3 linked regions of the Homo sapiens genome follow. The protein of the gene in region 3 purifies or fractionates together with the protein of the main gene of each other region. This does not show direct contact. Each region holds a gene or a part of one and is shown on either strand. Other genes may lie near its edges.

Region 1 (3,648 bases), on a different chromosome or scaffold from region 3:
TTCGAGACCAGCCTGACCAACACGGTGAAACCCATCTCTACTAACGATACAAAAAAGATCAGGTGAGCATGGTGGCGCATGCCTGTAATCCCAGCTACTTGGGAGGCTGGGACAGGAAAATCGCTTGAACTCAGGAGGCGGAGGTTGCAGTGAGCCGACATCAAGCCACTGCACTCCAGGCTGGGCAAGAGGGCAAGATCCCGTCTCAAAAACAAACAAACAAACAAACAAAAAAAACACACACACACACAGAAATAAAATCTTAATCGTAGTAAGACACAGCTGAAAAGATATGAAGGACTGACTCCCCGAGGCTACTGCATGCCACCCTTTCAATCATTTTCCATTCAGGAAACTTCGGATCAGATCATTTACATATGTACGTTTAGACAAGGGGTCCTATATTAATGAATCTTCTCTGTCAAAATCCTGGTCAAAGTCAGAAAACAATCCCATGGGACTCCTGGGAGCATCTCACATTGGGGAAACCTGGAGAAGTGGAGAAGCTGATCTGCCCGATTTGCAAACCGCTCCACTGGCCCCAGGGGGTCCAGCAGCACCGGTGCCCTCCCCGTGAGAGTCGGAGCCTCACTCAGACCCACACAGTCAGGATCTACACCTCCGCAGGCTCCCCTAGGCATCTCTGGGCACACGGAGGCTGGGAAAATAGCACACGGGCCCTGGGGTTGGGGGTCCCAGCACAGTCCAGCCTATTCTCTTTTCCTCCTGAACACTTTCACTGTGGATATGTGTTAGGGAAGAGGGGAGGGAAGACAGAGACAGGGAGAGGAGACAGAGACTGAGTGATGCCTCCATTCTGCAGAGGAAAACATCAAGACCCTATCTCAGCACTCAGCACTCAGCACCCTGCTGACCCAGACAGCAGGACCAGGGCTAGGACCTATAAATGTCTCTGCCTCTCAGTGCTCTGGTCTGCCATGTGTCTGGCTGCCTCTTACATCCTGACAAGCACAATGACTGTAATTCCAAACACAGGACTGGGAGTTGGGGGTGAAGACGGAGAGAACCGAGGAGTGGGGAGGGAAACTGTAGCCTTTGGGCAGCTACTCTCTAATAAACAAAAACACAACACCAGAAAGGGCTTGTGGAAAAGAAACACAAAACGGAACCCAATTACTGACATACGGCCCTCTGTTCTATATTCACCCGCACTTTCTTAGCCGAAATGCCATTGTGAACGTGCAATCTGGTATCCTGATGTTTGTCCTGACTACGTTACCGTATCTTCACCTTTCTAATTTTAATTGCTTCTGATGGCCCATCAGATTGGTAGAGCCCTAATTATTTAAAGAGCCTAATTCTCCCTGATAAAAGGTTGGAGTCCTGTATCAAAAGCTTTTAGCTTTCTGTAACCAAGGGGGAAAACATGCTTCTTTCGAAAGATGACAAAATGTCTAGCTTCGAAGGGTCATTCGAGTATGGCACACAAAACGGTCTGCATTCACAGAAAATGATGCCATTACACAAATCTCCCACTGTGCCACATGGTGACACCATCATTCCAACACACTGCCTCCCAGACCCAGTAATTTTTGCAAAATTAATTACTGCACTTTACACTGAAAAGATCCCATCAAATAATGTATGTACACAGGAAGGTAACGGGCCCAGAGCCGTGGGAGGCAAAATGGCGCTGTTCTCAGTTTCCCCTTCCACCCTACTGGGCTCCGAAGCCAGCATTGCTTCAGACACCAAAGGTGCCCATGTGGGGCTCAAGCCTGGTGTCCAATAAATATGTGTGTCATTGACCTAATGCACGTCCAGCCAATGGAAACCTCACACTTCTGACTTCGGTTTTAAGGTTCTAATCTTGAAGTCTTAACAGTTTACACATATTGACCTGAGGATATTGGATACTTTTAATTAGAGAGGGTTGAATTCCTCTAAAGGACTTCATGGACGAAGAAGACAGCTAGAACCCCTGGTTTCCTGCTCCTCAGTGGAGATTCCAGGCAGGAGGCAGGCAGCAAACACTTGCATTCCTGCGAAGCGCCAGGCATGGTGCTGGGCGCGGGAAAGACACCAGTGAAGACGCAGGTACGCGCAGCCCTGAACATCCCTGCTGCAGCCACAGGGCCCGGCCCCACCACGGAGCTCTGTGAACTCAGGGAAGGTGGTGCAACTCAGGCGCCCCTTGCTCATGTGTAAAATAGGGATAAGTCATTGCCCAGGATCACTGAGGCCCTGCCACATAACAAAGAGTCATTAATGCTAGTTATTCTCACTAGGATTGGAAAGGTTTGTACTTACTCAATTTATGTGGACTTTCTATAAATACTGTATTGATATTCACCTCACCACAGGCAAAAAGGACGCAGCTTTCACATGCAGCCTACCCTAAGGATGCACCTGGACTTCCCAGTACACTCAGCTCCACCAGGCACCAGGACCTTCAGAAGCCACAACCTGTGACTAAGACAATGAGTCACTCTTGGTGTGTGGCACAGTGTTCTGTGGCAGTGGGGACTTAGTCATGGTAAGTCCGCCATTCAGAGTTATGGAGCTTATTTCAGATTGAGTGAAAATCAATTTAAGTTTCCAGACATGTCTTGGGACAACAGAAGATACATAAAGAGGCAGAAGAAGAGAAAGAAAAAAAAAAAAAAAAAAAAAACAGCCTGAGACAGAAGATATCCAAGCAAGTAGAAAAAACAAACAAACAAACAAACAAAAACAGCCTGAGAAATACTTTCTTCATTCAAGGCCCGGGGAGTCGGGAATATAGAAAAGAGAAAGAGATTTTCAATTGTATCTTATAATTAAATAATATACACTCTACTGAGAGAAGAAAAAGCAGCCCATCACATAATATCGTTCTTGCCACCTGGACTCCTATCACTATAAAAAGGCATTTTCCGTTCCCCTAACAAAGCCACCCAAAGAATATCTGTGTAATTTTGGGCAAATCGGGTTTTGCTCACTTTTGAGCATTAACTAGATAAAGCAGCTTCACCAAGAAAGGTCCCTGAAAAACATGGTGGAGATGGTGGAGGCCTGACACAATGGCTCATGTCTGTAGTCCCAGCTCTTTGGGAGGCCAAGGCAGGAGGATCACTACAGGAGGCCAGGAGTTCAAGGCCAGTCTCGGCAGCATAGTGAGATCCTGTCTCTACAAAAATAATAATAATAATAATAATAATAATTAGCTGGTCATGATGGTGCATTCCTGTCTTCCCAGCTACTCAGAAGGTTGAGGCAGGAGGATCACTTGAGCCCAGGAGTTTGAGGCTGCAGTGAGCTATGATGGCACCACTACACTCTGGCCTGGGTGACACAGCCAGACATAAGTACTCTTCGTGGTCTACGGGAGAGTACAATATTTGGAATTAAGATCTGTTTTGCTCCTATCACAATCACGTATGCACCTCATGCCCTTACCTAACTTACTTTTCTTTCTGAGTCTTTCTCCCCACTTCCAAAATGAGGACACGCCTCTCTTGGGATCATGTATTTAGGCTTGGAGATAAGAAGTGTAAAGCTCTTAGAATACAAAATGTTTTCAACAAATGGTAGCTATGATCATCTTAATATACGGAATTTTACCATAATTTCACATCTGACAGAAAATTCCCCTGAAATTAATACGTGAATGTGAATATGTTCTCTCATCTCTAGCTACAAGCAATA
Region 2 (3,648 bases), on a different chromosome or scaffold from region 3:
GCACTTCAAGGCATGTAAGAAGCATTGCTGTAACAGCTCATCCATTTGTTCTGCAGGGAAAAGACAAGAGCCACATCCTTCCTGAGGGATACAGAACACCTGGTACAAGAAAACGACCCCCAGCTTCATCCCTACCTCACCCACTTGGCTCTGAAAGGAACCCATTCCCAGGTACCAAAGCTCCCAGCCTCTCTTGAGCACTGAGCCTTTAAAGAGGGTTGACCCCAGAGAAGGAGTCAAGCCACAAAGTCCCACCAAGCTAGGAGTGTTCACCCAGAGAAGTTGAGCCAGAAGAAACCTTGGAGGGCTTTGTAGCTGAAGACAGGCAAATGCCAGGGCAGATTAGCTCCCAGGAAGACGTGACTTATGTGGAAAGGATTCAAAAACAAGATGTGAAAGGGCTGCTGCGCCACCCTCACAGAAAATAAGGACCTTCCCCTCCTCCCCCGGAAGCTTAAGGGCCATTCTAGTCAGCAGTGGAGTGGAGTTCGTCAGGCTCCTAAATTGAGAGGTGGGGAGATGGGCTCTTCTCCTCCTAGAGTTATACCTTGAAGCGTTTTGCTATCTGTGGAGTCTTGGTTCAGGCCCCTGGTGCTGGTGTCTTCTGGGGCTTCTGAGAGAGACTTGTCTTCACGTGCCTGGTGAACCTCCCCATTCTCCTCTTCCCCCTCCAGGGTCATGTGCCTCATGTCTCCCTGCAGGGTGGAGTCCATCTGGACAGACCCCTTCTCTTCACTGAGATCTGCTGAATCCAGGGCCAGTGGAGCAATGGAAGGTGGAGAGGACTTGTTTCCAGACCGCCTGGAAAAATCTCATGTCAGAAACATCAAGCAGCAGCTCCAATACTCTCCAGCCCTGGCCACAGAGGAGTCAGCAGTGAGGTCAGAGACAGCAGAGAGCCAACAGGCAGGAGTGGCCAGGAGGGGGCAGAGAGCCTGTGCCCTCATCTCAAGCGTACTTTCAATTCTGGGCCCCTAAAAGTTCCATGCCTCAGTTTCTTCATCTCTGAAATGGGGAGAATAAATCTTGTCTCCTCCCTATCCCAAAAGAATAATACTATTAATAGACATCCCAAGACTGAGAAAGATTAAAGAAAAAGGAGTTTAAGATAAACTCCCAAAAATGTTCCCTTCATCTGAGTTAATAACAAAACCAATTTGAATTAAATATGAACATTAAGATCGCGAATGCATCTGTAATATCTGTTTGGTGAAATGCAAACCCACGGCTCAGCATATGTAATAAAACACAAACACCTGGACTGCTCAAGGACTGCAAAATCAGTGGCTTCTGTGTTACATCAAATGCAGTCTAACGTGGAAAGCAGAGATTGCCATGGTTTTATGCCACTAAGCCTTAGGAAGACAGGAAAACAGGCGATGCCACATAGCAAAGCACACAAAGCAGTAAAAAACTTTATCTTAGCCAACATTATGCAAATCAAACTAAGTTTTAACTAATAGTTACGGCAAGGCTTCTCAGTGTTGTTCACAGTAAAGCCAAAGGGTATGTTTAGGCTATTCTGATCAGGTAAATACCATAAATATTTTTTTCAAGGTGCAGCGAGAGAACCAAAGCAGCTGCTGCTAAAACAACTTAGACAACCTGACCTTGATTGCTGTTGCCCAGACTGATAGTTAAACAACAAGGTGCTAGGAGAACATCAGTCATCAGCCCTCAAATATCTAAAAACAGGCAAAAATGAGCTTGTACCAGCAAAGGAGGACTTGGCAAGTACTTGTAAAATCAGTAAGTCCGGCGGGGAGCGGTGGCTCACGCCTGTAATCTCAGCACTTTGGGAGGCCTAGATGGGCAGATCACGTGAGGTTAGGAGTTCGAGACTAGCCTGGCCAACACGGTGAAACCCTGTCTCTACTAAAAACAAAAAAATTAGCCGGATGTTTTGGGCACAAGCCTGTAATCCCAGCTACTCGGGAGGCTGAGGTAGGAGAATCACTTGAACCGAGAGGCAGAGGTTGCAGTGAGCTGAGATTGCGCCACTGCACTCCAGCCTGGGCAACAAGAGCAAAACTCCATCTCAAAAAAAAAGGCTGGGCGCAGTGGCTCACACCTGTAATCCCAGCACTTTGGGAGGCCGAGGTGGGTGGATCACAAGGTCAATGGATCGAGACCATCCTGGCTAACATGGTGAAACCCCGTCTCTACTAAAAATACAAAAAATTAGCCGGGCGTGGTGGGAGGTACCTGTGGTCCCAGCTACTCAGGAGGCTGAGGCAGGAGAATGGAGTGAACCGGGAGGTGGAGCTTGCAGTGAGCTGAGATCACGCCACTGCACTCCAACCTGGGCGACAGAGCGAGACTCCATCTCAAAAAAAAAAAAAAAAAAAATTAATAATTCCAAGACTGGGCTGGAAAATATAAGAATGAATCTATACCAACAGGCCACAATACTTGGCTAAATGTGTGCTTTGAGAAAATCACTGCTTACTGTTTTGCTAAAATGACAAGAAAATAACCAGAAAATGAACAGGTACGCGTCTCAAGAATGCAACCTTTACAGTCAGAATGCGTTACTTTCATGAGGAGGAGGAGTCTGGAATGTGAAATCTGAATAACATAAAAGTAATCAGGTTATAATCCTGGAGTCTAAAGGTCTACCCTGCAGTGATTAGGATTCAGAAGCACTCATCATGGGGTCACATGATGTCTAAAATGTGCATCGCAGCTAGGGCCAGATTGACCAGGGCTATAAAAAAACGAGTATCACTGTACTGAGAGGCAGAGCAGATGATCCCTAAGGTCTTCCTTTGGGTCTAAGATTCTATAATTCACTTAGAAAATAAAGTTCTCTCTCATTACTTGTCCAAACAGGGGAAAAAAATATTTTCTTTATATTTGTAAGGAAATAAAAGTCTGGGCTTAGCAACTTGCTTAAAGACATGGCTAGGACCAAAACTCTCACTCCTGAATCACAGGCCCCATCCTCTCCCCAGCTGCCCCGGTTCTCTGTAAAACAGAAGAAACTCTGTACCCACCACAAGTGGTCCTGGTAAGTGTGGAGCACAGAGAAGCCCCTTCCCTTCAGGCCTGACGTGAGCATCTCAGCTGTGGACATGGCTGCAACTCCAATGGCTACAGGGGCTCTAAGAAGAAGGAAGCCAGAGACCAGGGTCATGGAAAATCTATGGGAAGGGCACATGTTAGGATCATCTTCTGACACATGTGGTAAAAATACCAAGGTTACCAATTCGAAGGTCTTGTATCATAAAACCAAACTCAGTCCACTCTCAGTTTTCTTCAGATTATGTACAAATATTACTTTCAAAAATCCCTTGACCAAATATTAAACTAAACACTAAACTTCTGTATTAGTAACTCCTCTATTGACTTTATCACTGCCTTTGTTTTATTCCTGCTGTGAATTAAATCTCCAGGTGGGTCTTGGAAGGATATTTAATGTTCCCTTTCATTAATTTCAAAAATATAAATTATCTCCTCTACCTTAAAGAAGTCATAGCCATCCCATAAGGAAGTTTAAAGGGGAGGCAATTCATATATCATAAATTAGGCTGAGGGATGCCATAGGGAAGAGAGAAGAGACACATAGTGGGGCCAACTAGAGAAGTTCCTTCTAAGTTGACTTTATAAGAGGGGTTGCTCAGTGTAACTATATATCTAAGAACTGGA
Region 3 (3,648 bases):
CCCTGGATGAAGCCCACCCTCTGTGCTGGCTGCCAAATCTGTCCATGAGGGCACCCAAGAGAAACCACAGGGCCCACCTGGGGTAATGCACTCTTTCGTTGAAATTAGCAGCCAAAAATTCAGTCCCCCAGCCCCCGCCTTCCCCTGGCAATTCCCTGACATGGCTTATAGTTTATTCAGCCGATTTCTAGATGCTTTCAAAAAACTGTGCCTCACTCTAGAATCTTGCTTAGAAAATTCTGCAAAAATAAAGGCCAAGAGCCTGTGAGCACTGCCACAGGTCAAGGAAGCCCCCATAGCCCTTGATAGGAAGCAGGGCAGCCCCACATCAGTGGAGACAAACGACGGCTGCTCAGTGTCACGTAGTGGGGGAGGGAGAGGATGTGGGCGACAAGGACTGACCGGCCTTTGCTACCTGTGTGTCTTTTCCACTGCTTCCTCTTCCAAACCATCTTCCAGGGTGGCTTCATGTATCAGGAGGGTGGCATCTTTCCCTGGAGAAGCAGCACAAGGATCAGGGCAGAGTTCTCTGCGAGAGCGGCACACAGGCCTCAGTCACGTGCTGTTTCCTGGTCTCAACACTCAGCTCCCCTGGCCCTGGGTCTGCCTACTAGGATGACAACCAGAGACTCTGAGGGTGGGGACCTGAGTCTCCTGCCTCTGCTGACGTTTCCCTGCAAGCCCACCTGCATTCACCTCCAGCTACACAAACCCCAGAGCAACCTCAGGGTGGCTTGCTTCTTCCTCTACTCACCCATCCGGACCAGAGCCTCGCAGGGCATGGTGTCCCCGGAATAGACCACTTTCCAGCCAGAGGTGTGCACCAGCGCACAGCCAAACGCATGCTTGCAGTGCCGCACCAGACAGGTCTGAAACTGAAAGGGTGGGGCTGGAGGGCTCTGCAGCTCTGCTCCCCACCTCGCCCCCATGATGCCTGCGGCTGTGCCCCTTACCTCTTCCAAATCACATGTTCGCAACAGCGAACTGATCAATCTTTCCACTGCAGGACTGGAGATCTCAGCCCCTTCCTGAAGGCATTTGGCAGGAATCATACTGTAAAAAGACAAAACATTTAAAATGATAATAAACGTTTCTTGGACATCTGGAACCAAAGTTTAAGTCTTTGGCTGGAGAACCCCAAAATCATTCTTAGGAGAAAACATGAGTTAAATCATAGTCACTATGATGAGGAAACAGCAGTCAAATATAAAGAGCCAAACCAAAGCCTCTAGGCCACTGGGAGAAACCCAGCAGGTGAATGCTGCCTCCGGCTCAGGCAGCACGGGCCACGGATGGCTCCAGCAGAGGGGACTCCTTCCCCTTGGGGTGAGGATGGTGCCACCTGCCAGCTAGCCACACACCTGCTATGGACATTCTCTGTGCTAGCCACTATTTGGGTGCTTGGCTCTGGAACTGTCTCATCAAGAAAAGCTGCTCGAAGTTTAGAAAGCAGCTCAGAACTCAAATGAGGACTGGGAAGAAATGCTTCTAAGAAAATAAGCATTACATGGGAACTATCTAATGGTTTCTGTCCTTCAGCCAATGCACTTCTCCCCTGCTTCTGCCATCTGGGACCATGTCAAGGGCAAGGCTGCTGGGGGATATTGGTAACTACCCCAGTGTCCACCTTGAGCTTCTGAAGGAGACGGCAGCAAGCAACAGCCCAGCGGGCCAGGCTGCCCTGGATGCTCACCTGATGTGGTGCAGGACCTCCTGGCACTGGTTGTGGTACTGCTGGAGCCAGGCTTTGAGCTGGTTGGGGGCAACCACCAGCAAAGGGTGAAGCGGCTTTCCCAAAGATGCCTGGAACAAAAAATGCAAGTGCCGACTCGACGACAGAACATCTCAATAAAAACTGGAGTGCCAAGAGGCATGGCGGATGATGTGTAAACCGCTGAAACTCAGAACGCCCATCAAGTGCCACACTTACCAAGGCGCGTTCTCTCTGCAGCAAGATACTTGGCAAGCCCTGGCAAGGAAACAGGAGACATGCGTCAGCCAGGCCCCAGGGCCATCCCCTCCGGGTTAGGGTCTGCAGCCCTCTCTCTTGCAGGAGTTGCCAGCCCGACGTCACCCACCAGCCTCTAACACAGCCGCAGTGGGGGTGGCACAGGCCGAGCCCCCTGCGCCATGGCCCTGAAATGTCACAGGCAGAAAGCGACACGACCCGTGCTGGGAAGAGGGCAACGGCCCAGGGCCCGGCACCCCAGGAGACCAAGGTGAGGGTCTCATAGCCACACCTCCTGCATCCGGTCAAAGCTTCCGCTGAGCAGGCCGTGTGAGATTCAAGACTCAAGGAAGGCTGGGTAAACTCAAACCTGTCCTGCTGCAGGAAAGGAACTGAACAGGAAGAGAAGACATTCTTGTGGCGCAGAAGGACTATGTTGAGTTTTGCAAAAAACCATTTCCTAGCCAGAGATGAGTAACAAAAGCTCTGGGCAAGTTTGGAAGCGGAGGAAAAGACGCAGCCAAAGGGCCAACTCAACGTGGCAGTGCCTCCTCCAGGCTCCAGCTTTGTGGTCCAGCCCAACACTCACCGTGTGGTGATCTGCGTGCAGGTGGGACACAAACACAGCAGCCAGGGTGCCCAGGACCCTGTCCACCTGGTCTCCGTAATGACGGCACAGCTGCCCAAATGTGCCCTCACCACAGTCCAGTAGCAGAGACGTGTCGGGGCTGCAGAAGAGAAGAGGAAGAGAGTCACTGCCACTAGGAAGACTGCTGATGGTTCAGAGGCTGATGTCTGCTTTGGACAGGACCAAGAAGCAACTGCAGAAATTTCTGTCTCTCCTGCTTTGCTTTGAGGAGCTAATATAAAAGCCAATTAATTTAACCATAAAGGTGATTTTACATGTGTCATCCTCTTTATAGCAAAGAAGTATCCATGGAACCCTGAAACCCTTTCAAGTAGACTTACACAAAGGCTGGGCATCAAAAAAAAAAAAAAAAAGTTTATAGGAGGCTTAAAGCATTTAGTCCTAACAATGAATCTGACCATGCAGATTGACTGTGGCCACAGCCTCTGTTGAAAATACCAGGACAGGCACTGGGCCATATGAGACTCTTTCTAGGTCCAGCTGCCATCGGACTTTTCCCCCTTTGCAAGTGGTCGGGGTTTCCTCAGCTCATGTCCTCAAAGACACCTGGTGCAGGGCGGGCTGCAGGTGCTTCATTCAGGGAGCCAGTTAACGCAGACTCCCAGGTGTCACTCGGGGTTTCTGACTTGGTTTTAGGCAGGGCTCTGGAAGTCTGGATTCTGACAAACTTCTTGGGCTATTCTGCTGTGCAGTCCATTTCAGAAGCTCTGCTCCAAGGCAGAGAGAGTGCTGACCCGCTCTGGCCTCCTTCATTCTCTGGGAGGAGCCACGAACACTGAGAGGGCTGCACCCATTTTGCAGAGAGAAGCCCCGGTGCTAAGACATTACCTTCTGGGGGAAAAAGGAGTCGGGAGGCGGAGGCAAGGTGGCAATAGCACCTTCCCATTAGCTTCAGCTGGTTCAAAAGCTGCTCGCAGGGTGTCAGGTCAAACTCAAAAAGCCCTTCTTCCCCCAGGATCTCAGCCCCCGGGAGAGGCCGGCTCACTCCAAGCTGCTTTATTGCATGTCCTCATCCACAGAGAAACACACCCCAGATTGTATATTTCTGATG

Evidence for each region.
Region 1: the proteins of ELAC2 (region 3) and PFKP fractionate together in Homo sapiens (co-fractionation; one large-scale study listed by BioGRID). This does not show direct contact.
Region 2: the proteins of ELAC2 (region 3) and EIF2D fractionate together in Homo sapiens (co-fractionation; one large-scale study listed by BioGRID). This does not show direct contact.

What each region holds. Positions count from the first base shown.
Region 1 is NC_000010.11:3,070,415-3,074,062, reverse strand, and holds part of PFKP (ATP-dependent 6-phosphofructokinase, platelet type), read right to left. Parts: intron 1-3,648. UniProt on the Homo sapiens protein: Catalyzes the phosphorylation of D-fructose 6-phosphate to fructose 1,6-bisphosphate by ATP, the first committing step of glycolysis.
Region 2 is NC_000001.11:206,602,404-206,606,051, forward strand, and holds part of EIF2D (eukaryotic translation initiation factor 2D), read right to left. Parts: intron 3,105-3,648; coding exon 2,997-3,104; intron 802-2,996; coding exon 548-801; intron 51-547; coding exon 1-50. UniProt on the Homo sapiens protein: Translation initiation factor that is able to deliver tRNA to the P-site of the eukaryotic ribosome in a GTP-independent manner.
Region 3 is NC_000017.11:12,994,010-12,997,657, forward strand, and holds part of ELAC2 (zinc phosphodiesterase ELAC protein 2), read right to left. Parts: intron 2,677-3,648; coding exon 2,538-2,676; intron 1,970-2,537; coding exon 1,931-1,969; intron 1,804-1,930; coding exon 1,694-1,803; intron 1,054-1,693; coding exon 954-1,053; intron 876-953; coding exon 755-875; intron 495-754; coding exon 416-494; intron 1-415. UniProt on the Homo sapiens protein: Zinc phosphodiesterase, which displays mitochondrial tRNA 3'-processing endonuclease activity. Involved in tRNA maturation, by removing a 3'-trailer from precursor tRNA.